Homo sapiens: one gene and its partners. The protein of the gene in region 4 purifies or fractionates together with the protein of the main gene of each other region. This does not show direct contact. Each region holds a gene or a part of one and is shown on either strand. Other genes may lie near its edges. The genes, in order: TMEM230, OMA1, RAB11A and ATP11A.

What was found.
Region 1: the proteins of ATP11A (region 4) and TMEM230 purify together in Homo sapiens (affinity purification with mass spectrometry; one large-scale study listed by BioGRID and IntAct). This does not show direct contact.
Region 2: the proteins of ATP11A (region 4) and OMA1 purify together in Homo sapiens (affinity purification with mass spectrometry; one large-scale study listed by BioGRID and IntAct). This does not show direct contact.
Region 3: the proteins of ATP11A (region 4) and RAB11A purify together in Homo sapiens (co-immunoprecipitation; one large-scale study listed by IntAct). This does not show direct contact.

What each region holds. Positions count from the first base shown.
Region 1 is NC_000020.11:5,105,979-5,110,967, reverse strand, and holds part of TMEM230 (transmembrane protein 230), read left to right. Parts: intron 1-1,522; coding exon of another isoform or gene 1,523-1,537; coding exon 1,538-1,636; intron 1,637-4,657; coding exon 4,658-4,780; intron 4,781-4,989.
Region 2 is NC_000001.11:58,480,727-58,484,226, forward strand, and holds part of OMA1 (metalloendopeptidase OMA1, mitochondrial precursor), read right to left. Parts: intron 449-3,500; coding exon 239-448; 3' UTR 1-238. UniProt on the Homo sapiens protein: Metalloprotease that is part of the quality control system in the inner membrane of mitochondria. Activated in response to various mitochondrial stress, leading to the proteolytic cleavage of target proteins, such as OPA1, UQCC3 and DELE1.
Region 3 is NC_000015.10:65,878,002-65,882,990, reverse strand, and holds part of RAB11A (ras-related protein Rab-11A), read right to left. Parts: intron 3,321-4,989; coding exon 3,240-3,320; intron 1-3,239. UniProt on the Homo sapiens protein: The small GTPases Rab are key regulators of intracellular membrane trafficking, from the formation of transport vesicles to their fusion with membranes.
Region 4 is NC_000013.11:112,692,248-112,697,236, reverse strand, and holds part of ATP11A (phospholipid-transporting ATPase IH), read right to left. Parts: intron 767-4,989; exon of another isoform or gene 1-766. UniProt on the Homo sapiens protein: Catalytic component of a P4-ATPase flippase complex which catalyzes the hydrolysis of ATP coupled to the transport of aminophospholipids, phosphatidylserines (PS) and phosphatidylethanolamines (PE), from the outer to the inner leaflet of the plasma membrane.

The DNA of each region.
Region 1 (4,989 bases), on a different chromosome or scaffold from region 4:
TCAGGTAACCCACCCACCTCAGCCTCCCAAAGTTCTGGGATTACAGGCGTGAGCTATCACGCCCGGCCTATTAATACAAATGGTCTTAATTTAAATGTTATGATTTTTCAAACTTACCCACTGTCTCTTAAACTAGTGACATAATAGCCATGATTTCATTACTGCTGTCTGCTTTGAATATTTTGAACAAGAAGCCAGGTTGTTATTCCATTTTTTTCTTTCTTTCTTTAAAATTTTTTGTAAGATATTATACCATATTCCGTTTCTTAAGGTTGGTACAGAAGTAATTAGGAAAATGAAATCACTACTTTCAGTGCTTGGGATGGGACAGAGAGGTGGGCGCTTCTGGAGGCACTAGTATAGCCAGGCCTGTATCCAAATTTACAAGGGGCCCGGCACAGTGGCCTGTAATCCCAGCACTTTGGAAGGCTGAGTTGGGCAGAACACTTGAGGTCAGAAGTTCGAGACCAGCCTGGCCAACGTGGTAAAACCCCATCTCTACTAAAAATGCAAAAATTAGCCAGGCGTGGTGGCACACGCCTGTAATCCCAGCTACTCAGGAGGCTGAGGCAGGAGGATTGCTTGAACCCAGGAGGCAGAGGCAGCAGTGAATGGAGATTGCGCCACTGCACTCCATCCTGGACAGCAAAGTGAGACTATCGCAAAGAAAAAAAAAAAAACTGAGTTCAAGACCAGCCCGGCCACCATGGTGAAAACCAGTTCGTTACTTAAAAAATACAAAAATTAACTAGGCATGGTGGTGCATGGCTATAATCCCAACTACTCGGGAGGCTGAGGCAGGAGAATCGTTTGAACCTGGGAGGCGGTGGTTGTAGTGAGCTGAGATCAACCCACTGCACTCTAGCCTGTGTGACAAAGCAAGACACCGTCTCCAAAAAATACAAACAAACAACAACAACAAAAAAACCCCACAAATTTACGGCAAGAAACTTTACAGATCTTTTGCATTAAAAGGTTGATCTCTATCAAGGGGAAATAGGCAAAATGCTGATGTGAGTGTATTCCATTCTCTGCCCTCTTCTCCCTCCCTGTCAAACAAGAGAATCATTTGAGTATATGCTCCTCTTGCTTTTTCTTAAGAGCGGGAGCAGGGGACAGGCAATGCTGTGGTGTCAGGTGGACCTAGATTTAAGTCCCCATTATTCTACCTAGTCTCTATGTGACTTTGGAAAAATTAAAAGTCAGGGAATCTTGGTGGCAAAATAAACTGGAATGTGATTCTTGGTGAGTGTCTTCACTGTCATTCTACAAGGACAGACCAGACTAGATATTTAATACATAGTGAGAATCTTTTCACTGTGTCAGAGGCATATCTGGTTTTCCATATGCATATGCCTCTGACACAATGAAAATTTAGCAGTGAAGTGTAAATTGCCCATTGCTAGTCTGACATGGCAGCCCAGAACTCCAGTGCACAGCATCTAATAATCCTGAACTCATTGGCTATAATGCACCATTGTCATCTACAGACAATAACGGGTTTTTTGTTTTTAAACTGTAGCTGTGTCAGCGTGTTATGATGCCGTCCCGTACCAACCTGGCTACTGGAATCCCCAGTAGTAAAGTGAAATATTCAAGGCTCTCCAGCACAGACGATGGCTACATTGACCTTCAGGTAAATGCAGAAGAGAACTGACAAGACTGACTGGCTGTGTTTCTGTTAAGTTAGCAGGAAGACCTTCCAGATGGAGATTTTGCTAACTGTCCTTGGGGATTAGAAGGAGCAACAAGAAGAAAACTCAGCTCTGAGACCCTTTCAGCCATAATCGCAGAAGAGGGCCGTGGCAGGGTAGTTTCAAACCAATTCCAGTATTGTCCATTTCTAAGAATTTTTAGTTGTAATGCGAGAGCCTTGTAGTTACAGGTTTTATTTACTTTATTCAGAAACTAATCAGATTGTGTTTTGTTAAGTGGAGTTTTTTGTTGTTGTTTCTTTTTTTAAGGAACTTTAAAATTTTTGTTAGGTGGAATTTTTTTTATCACTGTTTATTTACACTTTAGTCAAAGCCCGTTCACCTTTTAAGGGAGAAACTTATTACTAAAGCCAGCAGATTGTGGGAATCTTCCTTCTTTCCTGATGTCATGAGATCCAATTTATTAAAGGTATTCTTTGTGATAAATAGTAAGTAAAACACAGTATTTATTAAGTTTGTATCCTACCCTAACCATTTATAAACTAGTCAATACTACAGCATCTCCTTTTGCACACTTCCCCTTACAATAGAATGTTCTACGTGGAACTAGGGCCAACGAGGAAGTAGCAGGAAACCATCCTTTATAAATAAATAAATTACTCTTTGGACCCACATTTGAAGGAGAGATAAAAATAGATCTGGAAAGATCTGGGAAGCTTCCAGCCACTTAGGTCAGATACAACGATGAGCCAAACCTTGGAAAATTTGTCTCTGAATCTTAACCTTGAATTGAATTTGTTCATAAGGCAGGTTTACTTGCTATGTGGAACAAACAACTAATCATTTGGAATAAGCTGAAATTGCCTTCTTTTCCTTTTTTTTTTTTTTTTTTGGAGACGGAGTTTTAGTCTTGTTTCCCAGGCTGGAGTGCAGTGGCACAACCTCGGCTCACTGCAACCTCTGCCTCCCAGGTTCAAGCGATTCTCCTGCCTCAGCCTCCCAAGTAGCTGGGATTACGGGCATGCGCCACCACGCCCAGCTAATTTTGTATTTTTAGTAGAGACAGTGTTTCTCCATGTTGGTCAGGCTGGTCTTGAACTCCTGACCTCAGGTGATCATCCTGCCTCGGCCTCGCAAAGTGCTGGGATTATAGGCGTGAGCCACCTTGCCCAGCCTCTTGTTTTGTTTTGTTTTGTTTTTAAGATGTAGTCTTGCTCTGTTGCCCAGGCTGGACTGCAGTGGTGCAATCCTGGCTCACTGCAACCTCCCCCTCCTGGTTCAAGTGATTCTTGTACCTCAGCCTCCCTAGTAGCTGGGGGATTACAGGCATGCACCACCATGCCTGGCCAATTTTCGTATTTTTAGTATAGATGGGGTTTCGCCATGTTGGCCAGGCTGGTCTCGAACTCTTAACCTCCAGTGATTCACCCACTTCGGCCTCCCAAAGCGCTGGAATTACAGGCGTGAGTCACCGCGCCCAGCCTTTTTTTTTTTTTTTTGAGACAGGGTCTTGCTCTTTTGCCCAGGCTTGGGTACAGTGGCACAATCAAGACTCACTGTAACCTTGACCTTCTGGGCTCAAGTAGTCTTTTCACCTCAGCCTCCTGAATAGCTGGGACCACAAGCATGTGCCACCACACCCAGCTAATTTTAAAATTTTTTGTAGAGACAGGATCTCTTAAATCCCCATAAGTTAGTACAGCCATCTATGTGCCAGGCAGTTAATAAATATATATCTAACAAATGAATGACTGTAAAGTCATTTCTGTTTTTGTTTTAAAGAAAAGTTTCTTATGATACAATGAATGATTTATGGAATGAGATTCGAACTAGAGTGAATGACATTCCTCTGAGATTCCTTTGAGTAACTGTGAGAGCAATAACTAGAGCTTCATCTCTTGCCAGTCCCTTTTATTTCTCAGAGCTGCACTGGGTGGTAGGACATACTTAAGACACATAAAGTATCTAGTTTGGTTCTTAATTACCCTCCTGTTTTTGCTGTTGTTGTATTTGAAACAGGCTCTGGCTCTGTCACCCAGGCTGGAGTGCAGTGGTGCAATCTCAGCTCGCTGCCTCTTCACCTCCTGGGCTCAAGCCATCCTCCCAGCTTAGCGTCCCAAGTAGCCGGGACTGCAGGCACATGCCACCACGCCCGGCTAATTTTTGTATTTTTTGTAGAGACGAGGTTTCACCATGTTGCTCAGGCTGGTCTCAAACTCCTGAACTCAAGTGATCCGCCTGCCTCAGCCTCCCACATTGCTGGGATTACAGGTGCGAGCTCTCCTCCCTGTTTTAAAGTGTTTGAGACTGGGCTTGATGGCTTATACCTGTAATCCCAGCACTTTGGGAGGCAGAGGTGGAAGGACTCCCTTGAGCCCAGGAGTTGGAGACCACCCTGGGCAACATAGTGAGACCTCGTCTCTACAGAAAAATTTAAAAATTAGCTGGGCATGGTGACGTATACTTGTAGTCCCAGCTACTTGAGAGGATGAGGCAAGAGAATTGCTTGAGCCCAGGAGTTCGAGGCTGCAATGAGCTGTAATTGCACCACTGCACTCCAGCCTGGGTGATAGAGCAAGACTCCGTCTCTAAAATCATAAAAATTAGGCCGGGCGCGGTGGCTCACGCCTGTAATGCCAGCACTTTGGGAGGCCGAGGCGGGCGGATCACCTGAGGTCAGGAGTTCAAGCCCAGCCAGGTCAACAAGGTGAAACCCTGTCTCTACTAAAAATACCAAAAAAATTAGCTGGGTGTAGTGGCGGGCACCTGTAACCCCAGCTGCTCAGGAGGCTGAGACAGGAGAATCACTTGAATCCAGGAGGCAGAGGTTGCAGTGAGCCAAGATCACGCCATTGCTCTCTAGCCTGGGCAACAAGAACGAAACTCCATCTCAAAACAAACAAACAAAAACATAAAAATTACAAATAATTAATTAAATGTTTGAACCCAGGTATTTGCATTAATGTTCTTCGTTGTCTTTTTCATCTCTATTTCTCTTCCAGTTTAAGAAAACCCCTCCTAAGATCCCTTATAAGGCCATCGCACTTGCCACTGTGCTGTTTTTGATTGGCGCCTTTCTCATTATTATAGGCTCCCTCCTGCTGTCAGGCTACATCAGCAAAGGGGTAAGCTGACGGGCATGTGGGAATAAGTTGTGAGATTTTTAAAATGTTAGCCAAGGCTCTAGTGTGCGTGTGTGTGTGTGTGTGTGTGTGTGTGTGTGTGTGTGTGTGTTTGTCCGTCCCAGTGGTCTGTTTTTTTTGAGACAGGGTCTTGCTCTGTCATCCAAGCTAGAGTGCAGTGGCACAACCTTTACCTCCCTGGGCTCAAGCGA
Region 2 (3,500 bases), on a different chromosome or scaffold from region 4:
GTAATATAAATTTATTCTGTGACATTTTCCTCATTGAAGATATTTTAACATAGATTAAAATACATCAATATTTCATGAAAAATAAATTCTAGAAGAATTTAGATAATATCTGTAATGTACATGATTTGACCCTGAATATCCTTTTTTTTTTCACTTCAAACATCATTTTTTAAAAAGTAACATAAAATGATAAGGACTGCAACATTCTTCATATATCTTGTGTCTCATAAATTTTAATTCAACTGCCCGTTCTTTTCTCAACTATGTATGTTAATGGTATTTGCTCCTGTTTTTGAATAGGAAGAGTATCCATTTTCTGTTTCTTCGTGATATTTAGGTCTTCTTTCTCTGATTCTTCAAGAAAATGCTTCGTGCTGAGTTTGAATAGTAATCGAGGGTCTGGATTAGACAGTGGTGGACAATTACACATCTCTCTAATTTTGAGAGCCTATAAAGAAATAATAAAATAAAAAAATACTATATATATACATCAATGTATTCAGATTGTTTCAGTAATCCCTAATATGCTCCATGTAAAACAAAGAATGTATTGTTATTTTTTTAATAAAAGGTATCTTGATTATAACACATAAAAGAGAACCACTGAAAAATCTACAGTGAACAGTTGTTTTCATGATTTGGTCAAATAGTATTATTTTAAAAACAACAACAATAGTATTAATAATCTGTAACAACTGCCCTAATGCTGTTTTGAGGGTAAACAAATCTTAGAGATACATCTATGGTTTCAGTTAAACTCTAGCAGACCGGAGAATCATTCAGATTTAAAAAGGCTCTATGAGAGATTTTTTTCAAGAAAAACTGCAGAACATAGATGACTGAATATACTGAAAAAAGATATACATAACTGATACAGTCTTGGGTAAAATTGATGATAATAACCTAGTGATATGGTTTGCATATGTCTCCACCCAAATCTCATCTTGAATTGCAGTTCCCATAATTCCCACATGTCATGGGAGGTAACTGAATCATGGAGGTGGGTGTTTCCCGTGCTGTTCTCATGATAGTGATTAAGTCTCACGAGATCTGATGGTTTTATAAAGGGCAGTTCCCCCTGCATATGCTCTCTTGACTGCCGCCATGTAAGACATGACTTTTCTCCTCATTCGCCTTCCACCATGATTGTGAGGCCATCCTCAGCCATATGGAACTGTAAGTCAATTAAACCTCTTTCCTTCATAAATTACCTAGTCTCAGGTATGTTTCATTAGCAGCATGAGAATGGACTAATATACTTAGAAAAGTAAACAAATCAAAATCATGACAATTTTTAACTCCAGGAGAAATAAAACATTGCAAAGGAAGGAAAAGTAATCACAGTGTACTATGGGGCTCAGCTATGACTAGTGCTTACAGTTTAAAATACCAAATCTTGATGAAACCAAAAAGTACAATTTCATCATACTGAGAAGGGGAGAGCTGCATGTGTGTGCACATGCACAGGGTGTGACACTGGAAAGAGAGGGCTTACGTCTCATCCTGTAAGGTGGAAAATAATTAAGGCCCAAAATTGAAGTTAGAATGTAGCAACATAAGCATGTTATTTAGACACAATGGGAAATACTAAAAGAATCGTCCAATAGAATTGGAAATAGTTACCCCTGAAACTGATGGCAGGGTTGAGGGACTGGCTGCTGATTTAAGTAACTAGCCTTAGAACTATTTAACTCTTCAAAGTGGGTATATGGATAATTTTAAGATATAAGAGCCAAAATAATTTTTAAGGATAAATGGTCTTAATATTTAGGAGTTTTAAAAGAAAGACATTTAGGGGAAAAAGCTAATTCAGTTTTTTACGACTTCTGGCTTTCTGATACTGATGTGTCTTAAGGGAAGTAAATAAGGCAGTAAAGGAGACAGTGTTTGAGGGACTGGTAAAATCTTAGAAAGACTATCCAGGCAAGGCCTCACTGATAGGATAATGACTTTGGGGGTCAAGAGGGGGACAGACCTGAAGGACATGAGGAAAGAGACCATGTGGCAACCTAGGGAAAAATCATTCCAAGAGGGAGCTGCGAGTACAAGGGAGATGGGAGCGTGCCTGGGGTGTTTTGGAACAGTGAAGAAGCAGGTACAGCCGAGTGGAGCAGGGTGGAGGGCAGGAGCAGATTATGTAGGACCTCACAGGTCATGCTAAGGATTTTAAGTTTTACTCTAAACAGCCTGCCTCTAATATTTGTGGGGTCCATGGAAAGAATGAAAATGGAGGCCCAGATACCATGTCTCTAAACACCTAAAAGCAGTAAGTCAAGCTAATACACTACTACTTAAAATCTGTTCTATTCTCCTACTTTGAAGAATACACATTCGAAATTACCTGGAAGTCCAGGTACAAAACTAGAATTCTTGAATTTCAGAACATGTAAGATTGCAGGGAGCTTACTGTGTAGCTCTTGCCACTAGCCTGCCATCTGCCCCCTCTCCCAGCCCTAGCTTATCTGGCACTGTAAAGGGCCTTGTGTGAATGTGTTCAAGGAAGAGGTCCAGATGGGCCCTGAAAGCAGGCTCAAACATATCTGGGCAAGGAATTCCATTATTCCAGATACCCTGAGTGGGGTATGGTAGGGGCACAGGTTCTTGTATGCTAACATTTCATTGAGTCCCACAGGAGAGAGGGACTTGTAGTCAGATGCGAGCCAGATAGACGTTCTCTAAGTGAATGGGGTCAGGGCAGAAGCTTGGGTCTAGGAGCACTTCTAGCTCTGATTAGGCTCTGAGTTACCAAGGTAAGCTGGAGAGTTGAAAAAACATTACTTAACGTGAAATTCTTCAGTGGCAGTGGTCTTGTCTTATTTTTCTTTGTATTTCACAGCAGATTTAAGATTTCCTTATATCTAGTGAGTGTTAAGTAAATGTTTAAGTAAACTGAATTGACACAACAAGAAAATGTTTCCCAACTATAGCACTTACAGCACTTAAGTAAACAGAAAGTCAGATCCTCAGCTAAACGGTGACCTACTGTCCAAACTGGGATACCTTTGAGAATGAAATGAGATGCTAGCAAGATTTGCACTGAGACATCAGGCATGAGCCATGACTGTCTCTGCAAAATTGGGACGTACGGTCACTCTTGCATTAGTTCCTTTACAATGATGTTAATTTTCTTTCCCAAGTGAGAAGTTTACCTGTCATGGCTGCTATATCAGTGTAGTGCCTATGTTTAAGCACTGCACTGGCATCAGTAAAGGGGGAGAGTATGGAGTCCAGCAGGTAACAACTGGCACAGCTGAGTGTGGCAATGAGAGATGCAAAGCAACAAAGAGAGGAATAGGATGCCATCCCCTAAGATCTTTGTGTATTCAGTAAAAACTCTTCTCTTATCCTTAAATTCGCTTATTCAGTCTTTTTAATACAACAAATATTTAGAACACCACAGTGAGTAAGGTGCTAGGTACACATTGGTCAGAATAGTCATGGTCCCTGCCCTCATGTAATTTACTTTGTATTTCTCCGTTACTGGGCATTAGAATTGTTCC
Region 3 (4,989 bases), on a different chromosome or scaffold from region 4:
AAGAGAAAGAAAAGGACAAAGCAGATGTGGTAAAATATTAACATCTGAGGAATATGGGTGAAGGATATTTGCAAATTCTTTTTACTATTATTTCAACCTCTTTAAATTTGAAATTGTCAAAATGCAAAGTTAAAATAAAAAAGTAAAAGGTATGTATTAAAAACATCCTTTAGTGAACCTGAGAAAAGACAAAGCTGTACTGAAATTCAGAGGCGGAGCAATCTACCAGTCTCACTCTCATACTAGTAAACTACCTCTAAAAAAATACCATCAGCAAAATCATCTCATGGAGTCACTTTCAAATTCATGGGTGTCAAGAATGCCATGGGTCTATTCTGAAACCAACAACACAATTAACTCTGAAGTAACAATGTAAATTTTCTGATATATAATTTTACAACTTAAAATTTTTGGCCAGGCATGGTGGCTCATGCCTATAATCCCAGCACTTTGGGAGGCCAAGGCAAGCAGATGGCTTGAGCTCAGGAATTCAAGACCAGACTGGGCTCCATCTCAATTTTTAGAAATTTTAAAGCTATTTTTTCTTTCAGCAATATCAAAACACAACGTAAATACTCCCTTAAGACTGTTAACATTTAAGGTAGAATCAAGTGCAATAAAGAGTCTGTCCTCTTCACTGTTTTCTCTATGCATTCACACTTCCACTGGCATACAGGAGGAAGAAAGTTTAGAACAAACATCCTAACACCTGCAGAACAACACAGATGTCTGCTGCCACATGCAGTGATCTCTGATCCTACAGACCAACAGTGAGATTTATGCAGGAAGCTGAGGAAACAGTGAATATAGAAAGGAAAAGTGGTAGCAAGTGAAACTAAAGTCTTCTTTGCTTTCAAGCAACAATTAAGCTGTAACAAAAGTTCAATCTAGAGTGAATTTTAAGAAAAGCAACTATATGTTCATCTTTTTTTTTCTTTTTGAGACAGGATCTCACTCTGCCCACAAGGCTGGAGTGCAGTGGCATGATCTCGGCTCATTGCAGCCTAAACCTCCCAGGCTCAAGCAATCCTCCCACCTCAGCTGGGACTACAGGCGCACACACTACCATGCCTGGCTAATTTTTTTGTGTTTTTTTTTTTTTTTTTTTTTTTTAGAGACAGGGTTTTACCATGTTGCCCAGGCTGGTCTTGAACTTTTGAGATCACTGCATGTGGCAGCAGACATCTGTGTTGTTCTACAGGTGTTAGGATGTTTGAGCTCAAGCGATCCGCCTGCCTCAGCCTCCCAAAATGCTGGGATTACAGGCGTGCATCAACATGCCCAGCTCTTAAAGGGCTCAATTTTAAGTACCGACTAGTTCATGTTTGAGTGGATCAGAAGCTCAATGTTACAAAATGATGCATAAAATAGTTAACTGCAGATGGAAGACTTGGGCTCATCTTCACTTAATATCAGAATAAATGGGCCAGAATTACAGCAGAGGAGATTTGATGGAACATAAAAAATATTCCAACAATGAGGACTGTCTAAAAAGTTTTTTCAGATGAGACTTTCTGAGGCCTTAAAATGCTCACACATCTTTAAGGTAATTTAATTCACATGTTTTAAGACTATGACTCTGAGGAGCAGGGAGGTTCAGTGACTTTAGTTAAACGGGGAGTAGAAGCAAAGTGATAAAAATGTAATGCCCTAGAACTCCTGGGTCTCAATCTAGTACTCTACATGTTGACTTAATAAAATGTACACAAATGGCTATAAAGAAAACAAGGACTTGCAGACATACTACATATTTAATCAAATCTTGCTTGCTTAAAACAATCTGCAGTGAAACTTTGACAGAGAACATTCTAAAGGAAAGCTACTGTGTTCCAAAGACTGCTTATCCAACCCCAGCACTATTCTTCTGATAACAGAAAAGAATTATAATAAAATAGGTACATAAATCTCCAATTTTCTCATGCCTTAATTGCCGTTCAGCTACTAATTTGCCAACTGTTCTCTATATACCAGGGATAGATAAGTAATTTACAGTATTCAAAATGGGTACTTTACAGGTACTCATTTTTGAAGTCTAGGGCAGTGACAGACCATTCTTTGCTAAGGGTTACTGAGACAAAAAACCTTTAGGTCACAAAAGTCAAGTCAAATCCTATCACAAGATTTTATAAATATAAGCCTTCTCTCAAAAAAGAAATAACAAAACTCCTCAAAATATATATGAATTTTATAGATGGAGAAATTAAGGCCTAAAAGGGTTAGGTAACTTGCCTAAGATTGTACAACTAACAGTAAGTGGAGGAGCCAGGACTAGAACCCAAGTCAGGCTTCCAAATCTTAACTCCTTGACTTTACGCTTACATTTTTACAGTAAAAGAAGATAACATGTTAAAGTTAAAATCTGTTAATCTCTAATACAGGGGCTGCATACAAACAATAAATCAAAACTTGTTACATTATAATTGGAAACTCAATCATATCTCTGTATAGACTTTTTAGAACAATGCCACGTAAAACTATACTATATATTAAGACCACATTTTAAATCATGAGTTCTTAAAAGTAACATACAATTTAAAAGTATTTAAAAACAACCCATCAAAGTACTAATTAGAAGATTAAGACTAATCTTACTAATAAATCTGGTTATTCTAATAGTTTCAGGATAAATATGAGTGAACACTTCTTATCTCAGAGGCTGACCTGGTCATTCACATTCCAAAACAGCATGAACTCCATCTCTTTCCAACTACTTTTTAAAACTTTTCTATATGCAATCATTGGCTGATTTTATCTACCAATTATCTCCCATGATACAATATAGAATACGCAAGGGATACCCTTCTTCTGTATCATGGGAGAATTTTATTTTGTCGCTATAATTTTTAAAAATGTTTTTTCCCTAGCTTTGCCTTTACTAAATTTAAAAAAGGGCATTTATATCTTTCTATAGCTGGGATCTCAATATTTACCTCATAAAAGTACATTTAAACATTACTTTGTGACCATGAAGAATGGAATACCTGGACTGAAGTAATAATGGAAGTGAATGAATTATTTTCAAAGTATTTTTCCCACTATAAATCAGATGAATTAGGACAACTGAAGCTCAGTGAGCAAGGGTTGTAGTTAATTTTGCACTCTAAACAGCTTTTGCTAGAGTAGCTCTCAAATGATAGTCACTCTCGGCTGATATATAGTTTAGTTACTGATTAGTTTGTTTAAATTACCTTCCTAAAACTTCTAGTCCTACTGGTGTAATCTGAAAATACAAGTCTTACCTGTTAAAATTGTCTGAAAAGCAGCTTCTACATTTGTAGAGTCTAGGGCCGAAGTTTCAATGAATGACAAACCATTCTTTTCTGAGGGGAGACACAAAAGTTCAGTCTTGTTAAGTTTTAAAACAAGGAATAGGATATACTCAAGCCCTCAAAAGGAAAAATAACAGAACTTTTTAAAACTTAAGACCTCCTCAACTTCTGGGACAGTAAGGGCACCATTCTGTTTACACTTTATTTATTTACTTACTTTATTTACTTCTTTATATAAGTAGAGATGCAGGTCTCACTAGGTTGCCCAGCCTGGTCTTGAACTCCTGGCCTCAAGAGTTTCTCCTGCCTCCATCTCCCAAAATGCTGAGATTACAGGCATGAGCCACCATGCCCGACCCTACTTACACTTTAATATTTACACTTTAATAGATTAAAAATAATAGCAAGAGAGCTGGGCATGGTGGCTCACTCCTGTAATCCCAGGACTTTGGCAGGCCAAGGCAGGCGGATTGCTTGAGCCCAGGAGTTCAAGACCAGCCTGGGCAACATGGCAAAACACTGGAGAGAGGTTTTGCTCTCTCTATATAAAGAATACTAAAAATTAGCTGAGCGTGGTGACACACACCAGCAGTCTCAGCTACTTAGGAGGCTGAGGTGGAAGATCACTAGAGCCCAGGAGGTCGAGGCTGCAGTGAGCCTTGACTGTGCCACTCCACTCCAGAATGGGTCACAGAGTGAGATCCTGGCTCCCAAAAAAAAAAAAAAAAAAAGTGAGAAATTGTCAATTGGCTCCTTAATTAAAATAAATACTTGTTATATCTAAGTACTACTCACTAGTGACGAATGACACCACTTAAAATGTGGTAAAAATGTATCAAGTGCCCAGTTATTTCCATCTCTTGCTATCCTCTCCATCAACTACATTGGCTATAGTATTCCGTATGTTGTAGCCATATTATTTACAATAAAGCTATTCTTGCATGGGAAATTTAAAAAACTGTTACAGAAAGTTATTCATAGCATAAGCATTAGTGCAAAGGCAAGACTTTCTCTCTTTTTTTGTTTGTTTTGTTTTGTTTTTTTGGGACGGAGTCTCGCTCTTTCGCCCAGGCCGGACTGCAGTGGCGCTATCTCGGCTCACTGCAAGCTCTGCTCCCGGGTTCACGCCATTCTCCTGCCTCAGCCTCCCGAGTAGCTGGGACTACAGGCGCCCGCCACCGCGCCCGGTTTTTTGTATTTTTAGTAGAGACGGGGTTTCACCATGTTAGCCAAGATGGTCTCAATCTCCTGACCTCATGATCCACTCACCTCAGCCTCCCAAAGTGCTGGGATTACAGGCATGAGCCACCACGCCCGGCCGCAAGACTTTCACTAGCCACAATGCACAATGTTGTCTTCTGGCATGCTGTCCCTACCAGAACAGGGGCAAGAGACACGTGAATTCTTTATGAAGCCAAAAAGTTACAGCTCCTAAGCAGCTGCATCCCTGTTGGTCCCTGACACTCCCTGAGCCTCTGCCTTTCACTCACATAGAGCTCACGTACAGCAGCCTTTGTAAACACAGAAACATAACAGAAAAAGAGACAGAATATACAATGTTTATATTCATTTTTTGGCAGCAAAATATTAGTGTTTTAATGACTCAAAGCAAAAAAGCTATACAGTCATCACAAACTTTCAAAACAATTCTTGCTAAGCATTCATGTTTACCTCTCTGAAACTATTATAACCTATTACTCTCATTGGAAGGTATCAAAAC
Region 4 (4,989 bases):
GGAGCCCACCGTGGCCCTGGGGAAGGCAGAGGCCAGCACCGGAGCCCACCGAGGGGCGGCCAGCCCGCAGGACGCCACAGGAAGCAGCCCACGGAAGGCCCCAGGGCTCCCAGAGGCTGCTGCGTGGGCCGCCCCTCAGGCTGGACACGCAGGCACCCACCTGGCCAGGCCCTCACCTCGTCCACCCCGCCACCCACTGCGCGCAAGCACTGCGCCCCACGCATCCTCCACCCGCCTCGCCCACCCGCCAGCCTGCGCACGCACTGCCCCCAACCCCACTCTCTTTTTCTCAGCACCGTCGCCTGCGGGGCACCCCAACACTCACTGTGGTGGTTTCCTGTTCGCCTCCCCCATTCCAAGGGGGCCCCAGAGGGATGGGACTTGGGTCTCTGTCCTTCCCGGCTCACTGGCGTGTCTCTGAGCACACAGGGGCGCTCGCTAACTGCAGCTGGGATCACAAAAGCCCCACGGAGTCGCTGAGGTGGAGGGCAAGGGCAGAGAGGGGCCCGAGGGAGGTGGGCCTGGGGGTGATGGAGACCTTGGTAAGGGAACCCCCCGCGGTAGGCACAGAAGAGACAGGAGAAGGAAGGACGGGCCAGCTACGCGGGGTAACCTAAGAAAAACGGTAGCTGGAAGCCAAAAATGAGCACGGTGACCGCTGGGAAATATGGGGTCTAAAGCGGTGCCAACAGCGGGACGGCAAGCAGCAGGGCAGACAGTGTCACTCAGAGAGGGAGAGAGACGGGGCCGCAGCACACACGGGACTGGACTTCGGCAGAACGGGTCACTCGCTCCAACCGGAGGAGGCAAGCGCAGAGGCAGAAAGGCTGCTGGGCGTGGCAGGGGCGTTCCCACCAGTGACCACCGCTCTCCCCGGGAGAGCAGGGCAAGGTCACCCACTCTCCACGTGAAGAGGAGTGCGGGGAGAAGGTTCCGGAAAGCCCAAGGTGAGAGGCGGTCTCCTTAAGAAGCCCAGAAGCATGGACGGTGATGCAGCCGCAGGTCCATGCGCGCAACAAAGACGCCCCGTGCACTGGGCACCCAGCGTGCACGAGCGCCGTGACCTGTCCCGTCACTGCACAGACCCACCAGGTGGGCACCATCATAGTCCCCACCTTGCAGATGGGGCACCAAGCGTACAGGGGGCAACCAACTTGCCAAGGCCACGCAGCCGTCAGCCGAGACGGAACTTGAATGTGGGTCTGTCAGACTCCGACGCCTAACCTCGGCACCTCTGGGATGTACCATTTTGTTCTTCTCAGATAATAATATCCAAGTGAAAGAGAAAATCATCCCTTATCTGATCTTCTTGAATTTCTACTCTGTAAAACTTGCTTGCTATTGATTTTTATTGCAAATAAATAGCATTTTTACCAGCATTTAACTTGGTTAAAAAAACATTGATAAGTCTGGGACTTGAGAATCTTTTATTAACCCTGTTTCTATTGAACATATGCTCCAAGCACCAGAGAACAATTTGTATTTTGGGTTTTAGGGTTTAATACATCTGTAAATAGAGGATTTCATGTGTAGTTAAGCAACTATGTATTTTTATTCATGGATTCAACACAGTTTTAACTAATTGTAAACTGAAGACAGTGTTCTTATCCCTAGAAATTTAGCTGACTATAGCCAAACCTAATAATACAAACTTTTTTCCCTCTAGGTTATTAAATTCACTCCCTGGCAAGAAATAAAAGCACCTCAAGATGCTTGTTCCTAATAAGCAGATATTCAACAGGGTTCCAAAAAGCAATGGAAATGATTCAACCTTTGTGTAGACACAAAGGTGAAATTATGCATCTGGGCAGACTGCTTTAGAATGTCCAGGTGGAAGACACGAGGCCCTGAAGACAAGAAGGGTGCTTGGTGAATTCGTGTGATGAGCTGCCTGGTTAAACATTTGTTCATTATGAACACTTTACGAGTCTGTACTGCAGGCTTGCCACCACACTGCTGGAGACAGATTATTAGTCTTGGATTCTATGCCTCAGGATTCACTTATTTCAAATACCTGAAGACCTTGGCAGCTAAAGCAGCTTAACTTAGTGCTCCTGTGGTGTAGACTCCAGCAGCTGAACAACAGCAAGGTCCCACTGGATCGTCTAATCCTGGATTAGGAAAAGAAACTCCAAAATTATGTGGCATTTCTAAAATTTTAAAACAGGGGCTGGCATAACTGAGTTAAATAAATAAGTCTGTCTTTCAGAAGGGGCAACCTCACAGTTGAACACTGATGTTCACATTATACACCATTCGGTAATAAATAAAAGAAGCAGATATGTATGCATGCATATAAATAGCTGGACTTTCTAGAAGGTTTAACACACTCTAATATAGCACTGCTTCAAGTTCTCGGGAAGCAAAAATGTTTATTTTTCTCTTAGAAAAAAACTTATAACAGTTTGTGTTGAAAGTAATTATCTACTGTCAGCAAGGAAATCCTTCAGATCCTTCAATGTTTTCTATCTTAGAATGTTAAGAAGCAAGAATGGTAAGGTAGAAACAAGCAGAAGCTCTGACAGGCAAAAGAACAAAACTAACAAGGAATATCTGGGCTGAATCATTGAAAGAAGATTATAGGACCATAACAAGACTGAGTTCTTGACCCACAGAACTCTGAAGAAAAATCAAATGCCCTACATAGAGGCATGGAAGGGAAGAGGGAGGGAAGCATCCTGCCCACGCCGGGATGCTCAGCCTTACAGAGATCAAGGGCTGTTTTACCACAGCGTGTAAAGCTTTCTGAATCCTACCTGAGCTCCACACCATGCTCAGTGTCAGGGTGCCCGGTTTACCTCTCCTGTGACCCACGACGCCAGCAGGCCGGGACCCACAGGTAGCTGAGCAGCAGCACTGGCAGCCCATAGGTTTGCTCTCTCCCCAGCCAACCCTACCCAGGGACTCAGCTATGTTAACAGCCAGGCATGACAAACGGACTGAGAGCTTCCCCATTCTTGGCTCTCCACCCAGATTACCTCATTCAACCCTCACAATAGCTATGAAATGAGTACTGCTCTTACCCTCAGAGGAGAAAACTGAGGCAGAAGGAATTAAGCCACTTGCCCAAGGCCACATGGCTAAGAAGGGCAGGGAGGCTCCCACTCAGCATTCAGGCCACTGCCCAGAGAGTATCTAAGAAAAGTATCTAAGCTACCCGCTGAGGCTGCCCTGGTTCCTCTCGGAACTTAAACTACCTGAATCGGTGTTGCTCACCTTACAGCTCTGAAGAGGAAATGGAACTCGCTCTCCATCCATGCTGTTAAAAATACTCTTATTTATTTTGAGACGAGTTTCGCTCTTGTTGCCCAGGCTGGAGTGCAATGGTGCGATCTCAGCTCACTGCAACCTCCGCCTTCTGTGCTCAAGCAATTCTCCTGCCTCAGCCTTCTGAGTAGCTGGGATTACAGGCACCCGCCACCATGCCCGGCTAATTTTTGTATTTTTAGTAGAGACAGGGTTTCACCATGTTGGCCAGGTTGGTCTTGAACTCCTGATGTCAGGCGATCCACCCACCTCGGCCTCCCAAAGTGCTGGGATTACAGGCATGAGCCACCGCGCCTGGCCTAGAAGTGCTTTTAAAGTGTTACGTCATGGAGGTCAAACTACCTCATGGCACATGCACTACCCCATGGCTCATATGCTACCCCATAGCACATACACTACTCCACAACACATACGCCAGTCCACGGCACACACGCTACCCCATGGCTCCCACAGCACATACACCACCCCACGGCACACACACTCTCCACCCCGTCCCCTCTCCCCGTACCCACAGCTCATACATCACCCCAGAGAGCATACACCACCTCACGCCCCCGACAGCACATACATCACCCTAGGGAGCATACACTACCCCACAGCACATACACTACCCCACGGCACACACGCTTTTCCCCACGCCCCCCAGAGCACATACATCACCCCAGGGAGCATACACTACCCCATAAGCACAAGCACTCCTCATGGTATACAAACACGGCACCATTTACAAATACAAAGTATCTCTGCATGGCTCCGGTCCATCCAAACACCCAAACCACCAGTAACACACAGTGTGGAGTACCTGGCTACCCTGGCCTAACCTTCATCTGTTCTCTCACTCATTTGCCTCTGCTATCTCTCCAGGGTTAATCCACAATAAAATGCCTACAGCAATGTTTTCCAAGGACTTCTTTATCTTTTAGCCACCCTCACACATCAGAAGGAGCTGGAAAGCTTTCTTTGTCCCAGGAATTCTGACTATGTGAACACCAAGAAGGAACAGGGTCTATTTATCTATCCTTTTTAATAAAGTAAGTCACATAAGGAAACCATGAGGAAATATGAGTATTCAATCCCAGACTCTTTTTTCTGTAGCAAAAGGAAATATAATTTAGTCCTACATAGTGGACGATAACGCAATTACAAGAAAACAGATCATGACTGTTTCTGGAAAAAGTCAAATTAGTTTAATACCATAGACATGAACTTAAAATGATAGAGATGAATGGCTCTGTGTGTAAATATGGGTGAGGTAGCCAGATGAATACACTGCAAAAAACACAGGTGGAATGAGAAAAACAGAAATAATATTATCCCACAACTCGTATTCCCGAGACGTTATCCAATAATGTATATGCTGGAAAAGTTCACTAAAGAATATTTACCGCTTAGATTAAAAGAAAATGTGATGCCATAAGCGTAATAATACAGCAAAGGGGAATTAAAAATGCAAGCTACGCAAACACTTATATAGATCTATATAACAGAAAACAGCTGAAGGCCTGGAGAAAGGGAGTCAAGCATCAAAATTGGACGTCTGTCTGTCCCCCTCCCAAGATGAAGGGGTCAGAAACCGGCTGGGAAGGGGGGATTCTCCAAAGGGTGAGCCGGGCTGGCCCATCCATCTCTCATTTCTATGGAAAGAGGCTGCACATTAGCCCCACAACGTGACCCTCCTTTTTAACACTGAGTGTTAGAAGGGAACGGAATGAACTGGGAACA